2 linked regions of the Homo sapiens genome follow. The protein of the gene in region 1 purifies or fractionates together with the protein of each later gene. This does not show direct contact. Each region holds a gene or a part of one and is shown on either strand. Other genes may lie near its edges.

What was found. Proteins that work in one complex are often made in the same cells at the same time.
Region 2: the proteins of TAS2R7 (region 1) and MEAK7 purify together in Homo sapiens (affinity purification with mass spectrometry, with the first as the bait; one large-scale study listed by BioGRID). This does not show direct contact.

Annotation. Positions count from the first base shown.
Region 1 is NC_000012.12:10,801,032-10,804,042, forward strand, and holds TAS2R7 (taste receptor type 2 member 7), read right to left. Parts: upstream 1,597-3,011; 5' UTR 1,540-1,596; coding exon 583-1,539; 3' UTR 501-582; downstream 1-500.
Region 2 is NC_000016.10:84,478,258-84,480,659, reverse strand, and holds part of MEAK7 (MTOR-associated protein MEAK7), read left to right. Parts: coding exon 1-131; intron 132-633; coding exon 634-747; 3' UTR 748-2,402. UniProt on the Homo sapiens protein: Activates an alternative mTOR signaling through RPS6KB2 activation and EIF4EBP1 repression to regulate cell proliferation and migration. Recruits MTOR at the lysosome, essential for MTOR signaling at the lysosome.

The DNA.
Region 1 (3,011 bases):
TGTGACAATATATTTAGCCATAATATATACCTTTTCTGTGATTATAAGATTATTCATAGAATTCCACAGCATTTATTAAGAACTGTCACTTTATTGAGTCTTTCCCAAAAGTAGAGCTTTGTTGGATGATCCAAGAGGAACCATCTAACGCGGACTATGAGAAGGAACTAGTTGCTTTTCATAAAGATGCAAATAACAGCAAGATGCTGTTACAGTTGTTTTGAATTAGTCACACAACTTTGCATCTGGAAACACGGTTTAGAACTATGAAAATGCCCTCTACTCTTGATAGTTGATATTAGGATATTAATTTCTATTTGCTCTGAAACATGTTTTAAAAAACAGCAACTCTAAAGAAAGGAAGAGTTACAGAAGAGAGAAACAGGGATACACAGACAGAGTCAGAAACAGAGACAGAGATAAAGAGATCCAGCCAGCTGTACATAAGATTCCCTACATTACAATTACAGATACACTAATTAAGTTTTAGGAGTAATTAATCACATAAAACATTAATGCAAGAACTGAAGTTAATTTAGAAACATCTTATCTTTGTTTGTCCTAGAAAAGCATAGTTTCTCTTCAGATTTGTTTATGTTGTTGGAATTTTCTTCCTTTTAGAATAGACATTACTTTCCAAATCACCTTTAGAGATGCATGTCTTAATTTATTGTTCCCCAGTATTAGGATAAATGAATGACTTGAGGGGTAGATTAGAGCTATGGACTCACCAAAAATCACAGCTAATTCCGTCTCTGGCATAAAGTAGCTGGAGGTGGCAATGAGAAAGGACAAATAGTAGGCAATAAAGAGGAGAAGGAAGGAAATGACAGCTTTCAGGGCTCTCACATGGGCTTCTGTGCTGGGGTCTCTGCACCCTGTGGCACTGAGCTGCATTCGCCTGATATGTCTCCGCAGGGAGAGGATCAAGAGGAAAAAGGACATTAGGCACACACAAAAGGGGAGCAGCGTTGCCAGGTTGAGAAATAACTTGGTAGAAGCATGTTGAGTTTTATTTACTCTGCAACTCCAAGTTAAGTTTGTTTTCCTCTTTGCCTTCACACAAAACCTGAAATCAGCGTTCAAATTCTCAGTGGCTGGAAGGCTAATAAACACAGAGAGAACCACGCACCCCAGTAGAATCCAGGAAATCACCCTGTCAATTCTCCACTTCATCCAGAGGAAAAGTGGGTGAAAGAAATTACCTATCTTGAAGAAATAGTAAATGCTGAGGCAGGTTGCAAACCAGATACTTAAATGATTGGTTAGTGTCCAGAAGAAGTCAATGATTCTCATTTCTTTACCAGTGGCATAGACATCTGGATATAGCACCAATATAAAACAATCTAATAGTATTACGCACAATAGACAAATTCTGGATATGGCCAGACTTGTGAGGATTAAATCAATGGAGGCAATTTTCCTCTTCTTGACCCAGTCCATGCAGTTTACCAATCCAATGAATGCATTCCCTAAGATCCCCACTGAAAACTCTCCAACTGCTAAGAACAATAAAGTAGTCTGCACTTTATCTGCCATGTTTAAATATGCAATTAGTTTCTAGTTGACCTGATGGAGTTTGACATCCACACCTGCTTCTTAGATTTTGATGTAGTTTTCTTTACCTCTTTGTTGTAGTCTGTTTTGTGATGGAGACTGGAATGATAAATGAAGACTGGAGCTATCTTCATTAAATCCTAATTAGTCTTGACAAACAATGTGTTTGGCGATCCTTGGCCTGGCCACTGTATGCCCATTTACCTACTCAGCAGGTTGTAATTTTCCACATACGGTTAATTTAGGCTGAGCTACTGTTTACTAAGATGCAAATTGGGCCAATTCCCTTTCATGGTCCTGCATTGTCTTTCTGAGGCTAAGGTGTACGCATTTTGGATTCATTAATTTGTGATGTATGCTAGTAACCTCAATAGGGTTGCTAGATTTAGCGACTAAAAATTCAGGACACTCAGTTAAACTTGAATTACAGGTAAAAAAATCAATAATTTTTTAGTGTATGTCCCTGATTACTTAAGATCAGTGCTTTCAGGAAGTACTGAAGTTCAAATTAGATTGAGTGTTCCATTCTGGCAACCTGAACATCAAGAATTTGGTAGCAAGTATAAAACTGGTAAAATTGGAAAGTTCTTGAAGAATTTTTATTTTGCTGAATGTTAATATTGATAATTAGTAAAGAATCCAAAGTTTGGTTCCATAGTGAGAGTTATATATTTTCAGGAACTTTAAAAAGTTAACACTAAATGTAGGTTATTTGATTCCAAAGAAACTTTAGGTCATTATTTTGGCTGTTCAGATGAACAATTACATGGCATAGTGTCTCTTAATACAACACATTGTCTTACTGACTAAATGACTTTTAATGGTTATTTAGCAATGTTATATATAATAAGGTAGAGGACCTGTAATAAAAAAAGACTATTGATTACCTTAAATTTTTCATTTTCACTTAAAATGTTCTCAAGGAAACTTTGAGAGGTATTAGATATGTCCATTACCTTGTTTGTGGTGAAGATATCATGGGTGTTTGAAATTTTATACATTAAATATATGCGGTTCTTTTTATACCAATTATACTTTCATAAAGATTTCAAAAATTTAAAAAATGTTCTCAAGGGTAGTTGTATGCATGAGAGAGGAGATAGTAAAATTCTGTATTTCATTCTCTCCACTGTCCTCCATACAAATTGCATGAGTATCTAGATCCTCAACCCTTCTAGCAGGAGACTGAAGATTAAACTTTCCACATCTCTAGAGATGAATTTTTAGTTTGAAATAGCTTCTCTAATTTAGAGTTACTGAGAAGCGCTTTACTACATGGGGTTCCATAGAATAGTTCTTGGGTATTCACACCTTCCTGGGAATGCATGTCTTCTCTTATCCTTCCTTAAAGGACAAACCATCATTCCGGAGATGTAGCCTTAACTTTTGGACAATCTGTATGATTATGTAGCCATGTTCACAGGCAACTGGAACATCACCTATGATAGGACGAT
Region 2 (2,402 bases), on another chromosome or scaffold:
TTGGGAAAGGACACAGCAGAGCCAAGCCCACGTGCACCACGTACAACAGCCCGCAGCTGTCGGCTCAGGAGAACTTCCAGTTTGATAAGATGGAGGTGTGGGCGGTTGGAGACCCCTCAGAGGAGCAGTTGGTGAGTGGAGCTGTCCTCTGCATCCCAGGATGGCCCCTTGAGCCTGGGGGCCTTTCTGCATTTTCTTACCATTACCCCTTTACTCTTCTGTCTGCAGATAGTTTATCCCAAATTTGATCCTGGTAGCTGATGCTGGCTTGGATGCCAGGAGATGCATGGCTGGAAGTCTTGTCTGGGATTTGTGGGTGGTTTAGTAGAGCAGCCCTGGGAAGGGGGGTTCCCCAAGTGCGAGCCCAGGTGGCCCTTCATTCTCTCTGCCCACCTGCAAGAGGAGGAATGTCTAGGGTTCCTTCCGCTTCCCTGGTTCTGCACCTGAGTTGCTGTTGGCCCCTGAACCTCCTGTAATACCTCCTACCCACCCAGCCACTGAATCCCAGAGTGGGAGGGGCCTTAGGGGGAACCGGAGCCTGATTCCACCCAAGAAGGCTGGAAAACTAGCAGGAAGCTGCTGCCTCTTGTTGGGCCATCATGGAACACACCCACCCTTTCTTCTCTTCTCAAGGCCAAGGGCAACAAGAGCATCCTGGATGCGGACCCTGAGGCCCAGGCCCTGCTGGAGATCAGTGGGCATTCGCGCCACAGCGAAGGGCTCCGGGAAGTCCCGGACGATGAATGAGGAGCCGCCTGAGCCTTCCTGGAGCCAGGACCTGGATTCCTCTGGGTAGAGGGCAACGCCTGCAGCCCCTCTTCCCTCCCACATGGTTTAACTGTAATAGCGTACCGCACGGGTCACAGCCTGGTAGTCCCACATGTGCCAAGAAGACGCCCTCTGAAGCCATGTCCTGACTCATGGGTGGATCTCCCAGAAATAGATGTTTTTTAAGTTTTCTTTTTTTCCCTACAGGGTCACCCTCAGGATCTCTCCAAGAAATCTTGTGTCAAATTAGTAACTCAGTCTTATACTTTGTTCTTTTTTACCAACGAAATCCTAAGCAGCTGAGACCTTTCAGACCCCCGCTGGCATTAGGGAATTCCGCTGGCATTAGGGAATTCCGCTGGCATTAGGGAATTCCGCTGGCATTAGGGAATTCCGCTGGCATTAGGGAATTCCGCTGGCATTAGGGAATTCCGCTGGCATTAGGGAATTCCGCTGGCATTAGGGAATTCCGCTGGCATTAGGGAATTCCGCTGGCATTAGCATTGCTGGGATCTCAACTTCTCTATTGAGGAGGGGGTTCCTCCCGCTGGGGTTCATATGGCCTCACTCAGGCCATCCCTGTTAGAAGGTGGTACCTGATGGTCTGTTCTGACGGGTGAGGGACAGAGGCATCTGGATGAAAATCTCGACGCTTTCTGGGAACAGCTTCCAATGGCATGGGAGTTCTGTATTTAAAAGCATGAACTGTGTATAAAATGGGGAAATGGAGGCAGGAGACTTTGAGGTAACATGGTCTGGTGGTGGCATGAGTCCTCAGAAGGTATTTGTAATAAGGTTCCACACCCAGCTCTCTCAGCTGTTTTTAAATGAATGTGTGTGAGGAACAGATGGGAAAGTTGGGAGATCTGTCTACAGAGAAGCAAAGTTGTGGTTCTCTTGCTAACTTCAAGGTGAGGGACATTGGGCACCCTAAGTTTGGGAACTTGGTTGATAAATACGTATATGGTCCATTCCATAAATCAGTGGTGAGTGACTGGCCTGGGTTCTAGACCTCTGGGAACCAGCACCTGAGTCACAGCTGTCTAGGCCTCGGTGCTGGCCTGGGTTCTAGATCTCTGGGAACCAGTGCCTGAGTCACAGCTGTCAGTGCAGCCATTTGCCCAGGGCTGCTCCCGAGGGGGATGATGGGAAATTCAGCAGTGTAGACTGACTTTAAACAAGCTCCGGTGATCCTGAAATGCTGAAGATCGTGTAGGTGGGTTGTGGGGTCAGCAGAGCTGCCATCTGCCCACGTCTGGAAAACAACACACGGTGAGTCACCGGTTGGCCATGAGATCTCCCCACTTAAAGGTGCTGTGAGCTTGTCTCTAAGATATATACCTCTTCCTTTTGTCTTTTGCTGTAAGCTTTGACCTTTTGCAGATCTGATGAAAATACAACCTCTTATTGTATAGTTTGCCTTGATTATAAGCCATAGTAAATCGAGCTGTTCGCATTTTTGCAGGCCTTGCATTTTCTACTGGGAGGTTCATCAAACCTTCCACTTAGCAATAGCCCTGACTCAGGCAGAATGCCTCATAAATTAGCCTTCGAAAGAAAAGTGCACGCTCAGACAGTGTGTGGAGGGGCAGGAGCGTGATGCAGACAAGGACTTAGTCATGACTGATTTTCCT